4 linked regions of the Homo sapiens genome follow. The protein of the gene in region 1 purifies or fractionates together with the protein of each later gene. This does not show direct contact. Each region holds a gene or a part of one and is shown on either strand. Other genes may lie near its edges.

Region 1 (3,500 bases):
ACTGAGGAACCAAATGGAGTGCTTTTAGTTCTCTTGTTCTAGAATTGTCTATACATAGCATTTGTGTGCCCCCTTTCAATTGGCATATCACCTAAAATGAAAAAGAACAATCAGGTTTCATTTTTGAAACATAATTCCAGTAATAATGAACCTAAATAAACTTAAATCTGAGAAAATAGCTTTAATCCAGAAGTTACATTTTAATGGAAGATAGAAAACTATAGATCTGTTTTCGATTTCTTACTCTACACTAACATGCTCTTTGGAGACACCAAAGGGCAAAAAAAAAAAAAAAAAAAAGAAAAACCCAGAAATGTTTCCTGAGATGCGTCCAGTGTGTGAACAGAAAAAAGTTCCTGTGCCTGGCTTTCTCCACAGGTGTCTGATTTAGTTGGGGATCAGGTAGCCATGCCCCAGAGCTTCCTTTGTCCTGTCCTCACTCCACCATTGACATGAGCAGAAGAGGGTGCTGCTCCGCTAAGCCCCAGCCCATTCAGCCCCAGTGGGCACTGAGGCCCTGGCGGCATGTCCCTGAGTCCCTGGGCACGCACTTAAAATCCTCTCTAATTTTACTCCAACTGTCCTTTCCTGCCACACACATGTCATTATTTAACACATGGGGTTTTAAAAACACATCTATTTTATTTCCTACAAGTACAGCTTAGAAAGGTTAGTCCAAGAACTATAAAGTTCTAAGAAGCCACACTGATCTGCTTGGGCCTGAGCAGCACTGTCAGACCCCCCTTGGATACTGACCATAAATAAATGGTCGCAAGCCGGGTGGGTCTGCCAGTCCATCCCATCAGTCAAGCAAAAGCACTGAGGGAACTGTGTGCCCAGCCCTGCTTCAGGCTGTGGCATGTGGGGATAGAAAGGCGAGAGATGCTGTGGCTTCTGCCTGGACACAGCTTCCAATTCTGCTGGCAGAACCACAACTACACAGAGCAGCTGTGCTTTATACACTTAAGTTGCTTATAATCTAGATAAGAGAACCCAAAGAACCATAAAGGACCAATGTTATCAAAGTAATACACATTGGACCTACTATGGTCATTGGATCAATATTCCACATCATCCTGACATCTGATGAGAGGCCAGCATTCATGTTCAATTGGAGTTGTATTTGTATTTGGAGGATAAAGTTATAGCTACACACACACACACACACACACACAGGAAAGGCTCAGAGTGAACTCTGCAGACCTGCCTCTACTGCACACTCCTGGGCCCTATCCACATGGGAGCCTTGGCTCTGCCCTCTGGGGAAATGTGCTAACATCACTCTGCAGTCTTGGGGAGTCGGAGAGTTCTCATCCTGCTGACCTGCTTTTAGGGTCCTAGAAAAACTGCTATCAGAACCCACAGCCCCAAATAGAACCACCGATGGAGAGGCTAATGTTAGTGTACACCACAGCTAAACCAAACTCATGACAGGCTCATTTTCAAGTATTTGCTTGTTAACGTCTATGCCTTACAGCAAGGGCCTCATTTCTAGGAATAAAGAATTGCTGGGGGAAAGGCAATGATCGGTTCTTGGACTCTGGGTGCTTTGCTAAGGGAATGCTGTGGGCGACACTCTCCCCATTCCTAGTCCTTGCCACGTGAGATCTGGAGTCCCAGATGCACCACTTAATTATGAAGACCAATGTAGATGATGTAACATCTCTGTTTCTTACCCATAAAGTGGGGATAAAAAGAATGCCTATCCTACAGAGTTGTTAGGAGGATTAAATAAAGGTGCAAAAATATGACATAAACCACAGCTGTGACTGATTACGTACCCTATACAAGCGTTACCTGTTATCATGAGAGATTGGGACACGAAGGAAGCAGGCTCTGCCCTGAAGCCACAGGACCGTGCCCCACACCAATATGCCAAACCATGAGGCTCAGCTGCAGTCCCTGACCCCAGCACTGCACTAACTGATGTGATTTGTGCTTGCTCTCCTTAATGAATACAGCAATGTCCTCATCTTTGTTCAATTTGCTAAGATGGAGTAGAAATGAGAATCTTAGAGGTGAGATGTGAAAGGCTCATGTCCCTGTTTTGCTAATGAGACAACCAAAAATCCTGATACAATACATACGTGAAATGAAAAACGAGTGAAATGATCAGTCGACTTAGTAATGATGGGGTCCAGCATTTAGTATAATGTTAGTCCTACACATCTTCTTTAGCATAATTACCATTGGGTTGGAATCTTTCTTAAGAGAACAGCAGGAGGCATCCTCTAGTTCCTGGGACGATGGGAACTTGCAACAGGATTCCTGAGCAAGAAGATTCTGCAAAGTTGCTTCTTCCGGATTATTACTTGTAGTAGTACCACCTGCTTCCTTGATTTCAACCTAGAAAAAAGCAATAATTATTTTAGAGAACACATGGTGGACACTGGCTCTTGCAGTTGCATAATTTAGAAAATTGAAATCTCAGTGATAAGTAGAAGTTATGGTGAAACCCTGTCTCTACTAGGCATGGTGGCACACTCCCAGCTACCGGAGAGGTTGAGGCAGGAGAACTGCTTGAACCTGGGAGGCGGAGGTTGCTGTGAGCTGAGACAGTGCCATTGCATTCCAGCCCAGCCCCATCACACATTCTTCCAGCATGCTCAGTAGTTTGAATTAGATGTTCTAGTCAATTGTTTTTTCCTCAAAAAGCCCCAAATCCTTGGTAACGTTTTAATATTATTTATGATGTGTTTATAGGAAGATTTGTAATTAGGTAGTAGCCCTTTCCTGCCTTAATAGTAGGACAACAAACATGAAATGGTGGAGAGTAGGGAGTGGCTGCCAGCTTTGTGTTCAAGCTGTCTTCTGTAACAACTGTCAACCCGATGACAAAATTACCAAAGATATGGAGAAATACAGGGATAATACTGAAAATCAATAGAATTTTTAAAAGTAAGAATCCTCGTGGTTAAAAAAAAATTACAATCAGGATTGTTTCAACATTGGGATGCTGCTTTTTACAATCTGTAGGAATGTGAGGAGGACTGGGAAACCCACGCTTTGCATCCTCCCCTCCCCTCCTCCTCCACCTACACTTGCCCGAGCTGCCTGGACCAGAGGACAGTGGGGCTCCCCAAAGGCCAGGAGGCAGGCCACAGAGCCCTTCCAAAAAGATGGTGGCTCTAAGGTAACATACTGAAGACCTCAAATAAAAATCACAGAGCAGGTATCTTTCAAAATGCAGATAGTGACTCAAATTGGAGCTTGTCCAGCCCAATAAAATCAGAGGCCCAAACAAATCATATTTCCCATGTATGGGCAAATCACTCAGCACAGCAGACTAGCATCTAGGTATAAATCTTAAAAGAGATAAAGTTTAGCTATATTTTAAGTAGCTTTATTTAGAAATTTTAAATTTCATATAAATACACATAAAATTTTCTTCTACTTGCTGCTTTGGGGGATGTGCTATGCACGTCATCCCAGTTTAGATTTAACTTATCTCCCTGTAATCAACAAATACTACTATAATAAATATATCATTTCCTCAGACC
Region 2 (3,500 bases), on another chromosome or scaffold:
CACTCCAGCTGCTCACCGGGGATGCTGGAGATGCACAGCACGTGCGCGTTGCAGACGGTGAACTGGTCCACCACCGTGCCCGGCTGGTTGGCGTCGATGATCACCACCTTGCTGGTGGTCAGGGTGCTGGTCAGGATCCACACCCGGCTGGAGGTGGCGTCCATTTCAGGGAGCTCCTTGGCCTGTTTCAGGGCACGGGATCAAGGTCAGAGCCCGAGCTTGAGGCTACCCGGTGGCAGCACAGGGCCATGGGGCTCCCAGAATCTGTCAGGATCCAGCCTTGACTACAGCTTGAGGGGACATGGCTGTCCTCCCCCAGGACCAGAACAATGCGGACTCAGGACTGCACTCTAAAGCACTCACAGACACGGTTTCGCCTCCACAGAAGAGGCCCCTGAGCTCCAAGAGGCCCAAGCTGGGCATAAAACTAAGCCTCCCACCACTGGGAGGCAAGCTCTGCCGCTCCTGGGCTCCTCTGTGCCTGCTGCCTGCCTGACCCCTGCAGCCCAGTGCAGGCCCACTCCAGGCCACCTGGGGGGTGAAAACTGAAAACCCAGAAGGCGGCTCAGTCCTGGTGAGGGAAGACACTGCTTCCCGCAGTCTAGGAGCCCCTGCGCTGCCCTGCTTCCGGGTGCTGTCCCCAGCTGTCCTGTGTCTCACTCCCAGCATGCTCTGCAGCTGAGCTGTCCTGAGACTAAGCCAGGGAGGGTGCCCGGTGGCCTCGGCCATGCTCACCTTCTTCTTCTCGGGAGACGTGTGGGCGCTCTTGGGCTCGCCGTCTCCTTCGCGGTCGCAGGTCAGGGGATCGCGGCCTGGCGCTGGCTTGACTCCATTCCCAGCGTCGTCCTCATTGGGCCTCCACCCGCTCAGGTTGACGCCCGCGGCACACCACAGCTGCAAGGGCAGGGCCGAGGTCGGGTGTCACCGGCACTCCCCAGCCTCCCGCTCGCCCAGCCAGCCTGAGCGGGGTCCTCGCGGGCTCACCTTCATGGTGGGGTCCTTCTCCACCAGAGGGCGGCAGTACACCGGCACCGGCACGTTCTTCATCCGCGTGTCCTCCTGGCCCCCGTTGGGACTCAGCTGCAGGGAGCAGGGAGGCGCCGTGGGCACGAACCCTGGCTCCTACCCATCCCTCCAGAAATCTGAGACAGGTAGGGCTGCCAGCTTCTGGCGGCACAGCCACTTCAAGACTGGAGGCAGGTGGGGGCGTGGGAGCCGCGGGGCTCCTTCTCCGACCCTCCAGACCCCTGCCCAGGAGGCTCACTAGGAACCTGCCAGGCCCCGCCCCACCCGCCGTCCTCTCCCACCCCCTAGCACTGCCCCGCCCTCTCCCCGCCCCACAGCGCCCCGCCCCTTACCCCCGCCCCGCCTCTGCGGGGCCCCGCCCGGTCCCCGCAGCGCCCGCCCGCACCTGCTTGTACTTGGCGGGCAGGCTCCAGCCGCAGGCCTGCAGACGGCCGTCGTCGTTACGCACGTGCTCACGCACCTGGCGGTACTGCTCGCGCTTCTGCTCTCGACGGGCGGAGGACGTGCAGTCGCTGAGTGGAAGAATGATGGGTGATGTCTCTGTCCAGGGTGAGCGGCCCCCACAGTGCCCCAGGCTTGTCCTGGGGGAGGTCACGGCAGGGAGGCCCGCCTGGGCCCATCCTCGCCTTTTCCCGGCCACCGGGTGCCCAGCTGGGAAGGGTGGCTTTCCCGGCACTGGGTGCCCAGCTGGGAAGGGTGGCTTTCCTGGCACCGGCTATGCCCCTGGGCTTGGAGGCCACAGCTGGCCCCTGCTCGACCCAGAGGCTGCTCTGCTGCCACAGTCACTGAGGGTTCCACAGACCGGGACCTGGAGTGCCGCCGGGGCACAGGCATGACCAGCGACTCCCTGCTGGACAGACGCCTGAAACGGCTCCTTGCTGCAGAGGCCACCGTGGAGCCCAGCACAGCCCCCTGACTGTTGGTGGGCACAGCCTCTGCCAAGGGACATCCTGAACCAAATACCGTGGAGCCAAAGCAGCCCAGCTCCCCGCTGCAGGGAGGGGCAGGCAGTGTGCAGGGAGAGGTCACGGCCCCTGGCATGTGGCCAGCAAGGTGGAGGCTGCCCTCAAAGTCCCGCTTCAGGGCCTGGAGGGGAGGAGCCTCAGGACAGGGCCTCCCCAACCCCATTGCAGGCCACAAGTGGGGGCTGCGGGACACTCACTCGTCAGGGAAGAATTCCAGGGGCCGGCTGCCTGCCGAGATCGGGCACATGGCATGGTTGCGGCGCTGGCTGAAGCCGGCAGTGGTGGGTGACTTGTAGTGGATGTTCACCGAGGGATAGGGGCGCTTGGCCGGAGGGGGGCTGGAGGAAGAGCTGAAGAGGCGGCTGAAGCTGCCAGAGGCACAGGGAGGTGAGGGGTGGGCAGAGGACCAGGGAACCTCCCTGCCCCTTCCCCTGCAGCTGCTGCCCACATCCCCCAGGGGCCCCCAGCTTACAACTGCCAGATGGTCGACTTCTTCTTCTCCTGGACGGATGGGTGCTCTCGGGACGCTCTGCAGGGGAGGGCACAGGGAGCAACCTGCTAGTGCCCTCACGCCTCCCTTACCTGCGACTCTCTGGCTCCCGCCAGGAAGCACCCAGCGCACTTCAGTCCCCCCAGAAGACAGGGAGGTGCAGAGGAGGGAGCCGCAGTCCTGCCGTCAGGGATGATCCCGCAGCCCCTCCTGGGGTGGCCGCAACTCCCACCTGATCATCTCAGTCCACCGCACAGCCTCCTGCAGCTCCATCAGCCGCTCCTTGTACTGGTTCCGCTCCATGAGCACACGGGCCATCTCCACCCGCGTGAAGCGGCGGCGCTGGGCCATGGGGATTTTGTCCTGCGGAGGGAGGGGCACAGAGGCTCAGCCAGCCCTCGGAGGCCGGGTGACACCTGCTTCCTCCTGGGGTGCCTACACGTATAGGTGGATCTCAGTGCCAATTTCCTTCAGATCCTCAGGCAAGAAGCGGTGTGGAGGGGTGTCGGCAAGCGGGGAGGGGAACCATACAAAAGGCATGCACCAGGACTTGGGTGCTGACAGGGGACCCGGCATCCTGCCAGGGCTGTGGTCCTGCCCAAGGGCCTGATTCTGACTCCATGTGGTCTCAGGAGTGGGGTGGCAGATGATGCCGCTGGGGTCAGGTGTCACCCAGGAGGGGTGGGAGAGCTGTCAGCCCAGAACAGCCGGCGAGTCCCCAGGAGCCCGCCTGGGCCCCCTGCCCGTGCCCACCCCAGCCCTGCATGTGAATTGTGGGATATACTGATTCTGTACAGAGACAGAAGCGCCGGTGAGTCCCCGGGAGGCACCCCGCATCCCCATGCCCCGAGTGTGAATAGTAGGATATACTGTGTGTGAATGGTGAATGGTGAATGGTGGCCGCCCAGCGTGTGAATGTGTGGGAATGATGGCTGCCCCACGTGTGAATGCGTATGAACAGTGGTCACCCGGCGTGTGAATGTGTGGGAACAGTGGCCGCCCCGCCTGGGAATGGTGAA
Region 3 (3,500 bases), on another chromosome or scaffold:
GGGCAACAAACTAAGAGCCTGTCTCAAAAAAAAAAAAAAAAAAATTAGATTCTATTTGCAAAAAATACAAAATAGTGTGGTCGGAAAGAGCAAAACCTCTGAAATCAGAGTGCTTACTGTGTGACCTACAGAAATTTTGTTAACTTCCTATCTTGGTTTCCATCCATACATTACTAATAATCATCATCATCTTATTATCAAGTTAGGGTGGTGAATAAATGAATTAACCTAAGTGAGAACCCTCAGTCTCCCCTCTCTACCAACCCCATGCCTCCCTAGGGTTTATCATAATGCAGATTTATAACAGATCAGAGTCAGGCGCAGTGGCTCACGTCTATAATCCCACCACTTTGGGAGGCCGAGATGGGCATATCGCTTGAGCTCGGGAGTTCGAGGCCAGCATGGGCAACGTGGCAAAACCCCATCTCTACTAAAAACATAAAAATTAGTCAGACGTGGTGGTGTGTGACTGTAGTCCCAGCTACTCAGGAGGCTGAGGTCAGAGGATAAACTGAGCCCGGGAGGCCGAGGCTGCAATGAGCTATAATCCACCACTGAACTTCAGCCTGGGCAACAGAGTGAGACCATGTCCCAAAAAAAAAAAAAAAAAAAAAAAAAAATTGTGTACATAATTCTTTAACTGGTTACAGCGGCCTCATGCCTGTAATCCCAACATTTTGGGAGGCAAGGCACGAGGATCACTTGATCCAGTTCAAGACCAGCCTGGGCAATGTGGCCAGACCTCTTCCCTACAAAAAAATTTTTTTAAATAGCAGAGCTTGGTGGCGTGCTCCTGTGGCCCCAGCTACTTGGGAGGCTGAGGCAGGAAAATCGCTTGCGGTGAGGATGTCGAGGCTGCAGTGAACCACGATGAAGCCACTGCATTCCAGTCTGGGCAACAGAACAAGGCCCTGTCTCTAAAAAGAAATCTAAGTACAGAATTATATCAATTTAAGGAAGAAAACTATTATAAGAACTACTTTGCAATGGCAGAGACAGCCGCGGCAGCAGTAGCGTGCTCAACAAGAAGTGCGTAGCCCCACTCTCCCAAAAGAAAAAAACGAATCATTGTAAAACACAAAAACCTTAAATAAGAACTCTTTAAATGAGTGCTGGAGGAAAAATTTAAGAGGCTTTGAGGAAAAACATTTACTGACAAAATGTTCAATGTACAAAAATTCTGTATCCTTACTTTTCATATATAGGTTTATCAACACTTTATACATGGCCTTCAGAATTTCAAATAGTAGGTTTTTTTTTTTTCAAGAGGGAAACCAATTAGACCAAATGACAAGGCATACTTATACTACCAGGAAAGAAATACTGAAGAACGTGTCTTGTTTCATAAACTTGGTACTGACTAAATAAAAGAAAGCCTCACATTTTTGTGCCTAAGAATGATTAGTATAGGGATTCTCAAAGCATGATCTGGGGACAAGTGAATCCAGTTGTCCTAAAAGATCCCAGTCCCCACTAAAGGGGCTTCCCAATGTCAAAATTATTATCCAAATAATTTTTTTAAAGTTATTGGTCAGCCGGGCACAGTGGCTCACATCCGTGATCCTAGCACCTTGGGAGGTAGAGGTGGGCTGATCACTTGAGCTCAGGAGTTCAAAACCAGCCTGGTCAATATGGTGAAACCCTATCTCTACTAAAAAATACAAAACTTAGCCAGGGGTGATGGCATGTGCGTCTGATTCCAGCTACTCAGGAGGGTGAGGCACGAGAATTGCTTGAACCCAGGAGGCAGAGGTTGCAGTGAGCCAAGATTGCGCCACCTCCAGCCAGGGCGACAGAGCAAGACTCCTTCTCAAAATAAATACATAAATAAAGAATAGTTATTTGTCTTTTTCACTTTCATTCTGTTTTCTAGAGGTTTACACATGGTATGTGATATTGCAACAGACTGAATGCAGAAGCTGATGAGAAGCCCATTGGCTTTTATTAAGCCAGATATTAAAGAGATATGCAAAAATTTAAAACAATGCCACTCTTTTCACCAAGTTCTTAACTGTTTTAGAAAAGTTATTTTTCATAAAAAAATGTTATTTAGGTTACCATGTAATAGAATTAATTTTTATTTGTTTATTTATTTTTTGAGACAGTCTCACTCTGCACCCAGGCTGGAGTACAGTGGCATGATCTCTGCAACCTCTGCTCCGGGGTTCAAGCGATTCTCCTGCCTCAGCCTCCTGAGTAGCTGGGATTACAGGAGCCCACCACCACGCCCAGCTCATTTTTTTATTTTTAGTAGAGACGGAGTTTCACCATGTTGCCCAGGCTGGTCTCGAACTCCTGGCCTCAAGCGATCCACCCGCCTCGGCCTCTCAAAGTGCTGGGATTACAGGTGTGAGCCACCAAGCCCGGCCCCCACTAATTTTTAAGAGTACAAATAAGTACAAAGAAGTCCTGAGACCACAGGCTTGAGAACAACTGAAAGTGTAAGAGATAAGTGACAACACACACACACACACACACACGTGCACGCACAAACCTCAACCTCTTCCTACCTCTGCCCTGGAAGACTATTACTGCTATTTATATCACAGAATTTTTGAACACTTCAAACTCTCTAGTGACCAGTAAAAAAAGAAGTTTGGTGGGGGTAAAACTGGACAGGAAATTAAAGGCAAAGAAATTAAATGCTTCCTTTTCAGTTATAAGGCTGCCATTCTGATGTGAAGGCAAAATTATAGGCAATTAAAAGACATTTCAAAATTAACCTCTATGTTTGTGCCATAAGCAATAATTTATTGCTTTCACATTCCTTCCACAGCTGCTTGAAAATTCATACAAAAGCTTAAGGTATTCAATGCAAAAGCTAGATTCTCAGAGGTTGATATAATATACTTACCCTCAATGAAAAATTTAAATGATTTCATACTATCTTCATCCCCAAACTGTTCTCCTACCAAAATTGATGCCTATGCAGAAAATGCCACAGTTGCATATCGAAAAGAGAATGCAAAGGCTTACTACGGATAAAAACAGAATTAATTTCTGAGTCATAACATTTCTCACTTCTGTAACCCATAAAGTAAAAAAATGTAAATTTGACAATCTCAAAGCAGCCAACTTCTCAACATACCAATATAAAAGAAAAGACAAATTTAAAGACAGACTTTTAAGCTCTATTAGCGGTCACTTTACTCTCAATACACTACTCAAATTGAAAACTCACTTTAATATGGGAGGAGACGTTGTGTAAGTTAACTTTAATTTGTTTAATACTGGAAATTCTTTCTTGTCATCAAAATATTTTTATAACTCAGGACCAAATTGCAAATGACCATTTAACTAAGCTATTAGGAGGGCCCTGGGTCCTCCAGCCTCCAGACTGGCACCAAATTACTTCACTTTTCAGGTATGTTTAGCATTTCGTCATCCTATAATACAAGAAGCCTTATAAGAAAAAAAAAACCCTGCTTGAATGCTATTTTTCATCAGAAGACTTTAATTTAATGCTTCTCTGCTTATTCCACACTATGACTAGAAGTAGT
Region 4 (3,500 bases), on another chromosome or scaffold:
CAACCAGGATTCACCACTTTCTTGGCCTCCTGTTTCTTCATGACACCAAGGGCCAGAGCCACCTCCTTCCTCTTGGCCTTTCCTTTTGGCATCTTGGGTGGCAGGAAGAGATTCTTTATAGTCATTTCTAAAGTCTAATTTATAGAGCATTTTACTCTTAAATAACTCCTGGATTATTACTGCTGTCATATTTTCTACTCTTAAAAGATTTTCTTACTACAAAATTAATAGATTACATAGAAAACTATGTATTTATTAAAATTTTAAAAGGGAGACAGAGTCTCGCTTTGTTGCCCAGACTAGTCTTGAGCTCCTGGACTCAAGTAATTCTTTGGCCTCAGCCTCTTGCATAGCTGGGATTATAGGCATGCACCACCACTCCCAGCTTCATTAGATTTTATTTTATGAACTTCAAGGAAATACTTAGAGTAGATTTGGAATTTTGATTAAGTAAAAAATTAAATGTATCTGGTACTCTCAATAGGATAATTCATTTATTTATTTATTTTTAATTAGAGACAGTGTCTCACTATGTTTTCCAGACTGGTCTCAAACTCTTGGGCTCAATGGATCCTCCCGCCTTGGCCTCCCAGAGTTCTGGGATTACAGGTGTGAGCCACTGTGCCTGGCCTGGAATTCATTTTGTACCAACTTTAGCTTGGAATTACTGGAAATGCTAATAGGAAGAAATGACTATGATTTTTTTACTCTCTAGACATGATTTACTAATATATATCAGCTGGCTGGACATGGTGGCTCATGCTTAGAATTGCAGCATTTTGGGAGGCTGAGGCAGAAGGATTGCTTGAGCTCAGGAGTTGGAGACCAGCCTGAGCAACATACTTAGAACCTATTTCTACAAAAAACTTGAAAAAAATTTCACCAGGCATATTGGTATGTGCCTGAGGTTTCAGCTACATGGGAGGAGTTCAAGGATACAGTGAAATACTACACTTTTGCCTGGATAACAGCAAAATTCTGTCTCTTAAAAAAATAAAGCTGGGCGCGGTGGCTCACCCCTGTAATCCCAGCACTTTGGGAGGCCGAGGTGGGCAGATCACCTGAGGTCAGGAGTTCGAGACCAGCCTGGCCAACGTGGTGAAACCCTGTCTCTACTAAAAATACAAAAATTAGCCAGGCATATTGGCGCACGCTTATAGTCCCAGCCACTCAGGAGGCTGAGGAAGGAGAATTGCTTGAACCCGGGAGGCAGAGGTTGCAGTGAGCCTAGATCACACCACTGCACTCCAGCCTGGGCGACAGAGCAAGACTCTGTCTCAAATAAACAAATAAATCCGGGTGCGGTGGCTCACGCCTATAATCCCAGCACTTCAGGAGGCCAAGGCGGGTGGATCACCTGAGGTTGGGAGTTCAAGACCAGCCCTGCCAACATGGAGAAACCCCGTCTCTACTAAAAATACAAAATTAGCTGGGCGTAGTGGCGCATGCCTGTAATCCCAGCTACTTGGGAGGCTGAGGCAGGAGAATCACTTGAACCCAGGAGGCGGAGGTTGTGGTGAGCTGAGATCGAGCCATTGCACTCCAGCCTGGGCAACAAGAGTGAAACTCTGTCTCAAAAAAATAAATAAATAAAAATAAAAATTAGGTCGGGTGTGGTGATCATACATGTAATTTCAGCACTTTGGGAGGCTGAGGCAGGAGGATTACTTGAGCCCTGGAGTTCCAGACCAGCCTAGGCAACATAGGGAGACCCCCTTTCTACAAAAAATTAATAAAACTAGCCGGGTGTGGTGGCATGTGTCTGTGGTCCCAGCTACTCGGAAGGCTGAGGCAAGAGAATTGCTAAACACCCAGGTGTTTGAGGGTGCAGTGAGCTGTGATTGCACCACCACACTCCAGCCTAGACAACAGAGTGAGAGCTCATGTCTAAATAAATAACTATACAAACAAACAGCTTATTTCATGTGGACATGTATTAATGATTCCATCGTACTAGACTATGAGTTTTTAAGGATAGGGACTATGTCTCAGACAGTGTTTTTATCTTCAGTGTATAAAACCGTTCGGTATACATTAGTGTTGTGAAAATACTGAACTCGCAACTCTTCAGCTTGAACATTGCAAAACTCCTTCATTTAAACAAAATTTGACCAGGCTGGGCACGTGGGCTTATGCCTGTAATCCCAGCACTTCGGGAGGTCAAGGTGGGCAGATTGCTTGAGCCCAGGAGTTTGAGACCAGCCTGGGCAACATGGCGAAACCCCATCTGTACAAGAAATATAAAAATTAGCAGGGCATGGTGATGCACGCCTGTAGTCCCAGCTACTTGGGAGCCTGCGGTGGGAGGATTGATTGAGTCTGGGAGTTGGAGGCTGCAGTGAGGCGTAATTGTGCCACTGCATTCTACCCTGGGCGACAGAGGAGACCCCGTCTCAAAGAACAGAAAAAGAAAACTTGGCCAATGGGAAGGAGACTTTTAATAACTTTAAAAAACACTTAAATTGTTTCATAAGAATAAAATAATTTTAAGGACTGCTAGGTACATTGACTTTGGATTTTTTTTCTATTTTTGGAACAGGGCATCTATGTACTTCAGGACAACAAATTTCGCCTGCTTACTCAGATGTCTGCAGGAAAACAGTATTTAGAACATGCATCTAAGGTATTTAATGGAATAGAAGTTGGGGTTTTTGTTAATAGTAGGACTACAGGGAAAAGTACAGTGCTAATCATAACAAACTATTGAATTAAAAATATGTTTTAAGGTGTTCTTTTTTGTTTAAAGAGTTTTCTATGAAATGAGAGACATGTTACAATAACACTAAACTGTAGCTAAATAGTCATAGAGTGACCAATTAAAGAAACACTGGCCGGGCGCTATGGCTCACGCCTGTAATCCCAGCACTTTGGGAGGCCAAGGCAGGTGGATTACCTGAGGTCAAGAGTTCAAGACCAGCTTGGCCAGCATGGGGAAACCCTTTCTCTACTAAAAATATGAAAAATAGCTGGACGTTCTGGCGAGCGCCTGCAATCCCAGCTATTCGGGAGGCTGAGGCAGGAGAATCACTTGAACCCGGGAGGCAGAAGTTGCAGTGAGCTGAGATCGTGCTATCATTGCACTCCAGCCTGGGGTATAAGAGCAAAACTCCATCTCAAAAAAAAAAAAAAAGAAAAAAAAGAAACACTATAACTAAATGACAGTGAAATGTAGATGTATGGTAGATCACTTTTTTTTTTTTTTTAAGACAAGGTCTTGCTCTGTCATCTAGGCTGGAGTGTAGTGGTACAATCATGGCCTATCTTGACCTTGACCCCCCCGGGCTCAAGTGATCCTCCCACTTCAGTCACCCAAGGAGGTAGGACTGCAGGTGTGGGCCACCATGCCTGGCTAATTTTTAAAAAAATTTTTTAGAGATGGGATCCCACGATGTTGCCCAGGCTCGTCTTGAACTCCTGGGCTCAAGTGATCACCTCACCTCGGCCTCCCAGTGTGTTGGGATTACAGGTGTGAGCCACTGCATCCGGCCTGATTGCCTATT

What was found.
Region 2: the proteins of TESMIN (region 1) and MAPK8IP3 purify together in Homo sapiens (affinity purification with mass spectrometry; one large-scale study listed by BioGRID and IntAct). This does not show direct contact.
Region 3: the proteins of TESMIN (region 1) and KLHL15 purify together in Homo sapiens (affinity purification with mass spectrometry; one large-scale study listed by BioGRID and IntAct). This does not show direct contact.
Region 4: the proteins of TESMIN (region 1) and TRAPPC6B purify together in Homo sapiens (affinity purification with mass spectrometry; one large-scale study listed by BioGRID and IntAct). This does not show direct contact.

The regions. Positions count from the first base shown.
Region 1 is NC_000011.10:68,745,021-68,748,520, forward strand, and holds part of TESMIN (tesmin), read right to left. Parts: intron 2,347-3,500; coding exon 2,188-2,346; intron 92-2,187; coding exon 1-91.
Region 2 is NC_000016.10:1,761,695-1,765,194, reverse strand, and holds part of MAPK8IP3 (C-Jun-amino-terminal kinase-interacting protein 3), read right to left. Parts: intron 2,845-3,500; coding exon 2,714-2,844; intron 2,521-2,713; coding exon 2,464-2,520; intron 2,360-2,463; coding exon 2,189-2,359; intron 1,539-2,188; coding exon 1,412-1,538; intron 1,081-1,411; coding exon 985-1,080; intron 895-984; coding exon 736-894; intron 183-735; coding exon 17-182; intron 1-16.
Region 3 is NC_000023.11:24,017,187-24,020,686, forward strand, and holds part of KLHL15 (kelch-like protein 15), read right to left. Parts: intron 1-3,500. UniProt on the Homo sapiens protein: Substrate-specific adapter for CUL3 E3 ubiquitin-protein ligase complex.
Region 4 is NC_000014.9:39,153,334-39,156,833, reverse strand, and holds part of TRAPPC6B (trafficking protein particle complex subunit 6B), read left to right. Parts: intron 1-2,539; coding exon 2,540-2,623; intron 2,624-3,500. UniProt on the Homo sapiens protein: Component of a transport protein particle (TRAPP) complex that may function in specific stages of inter-organelle traffic.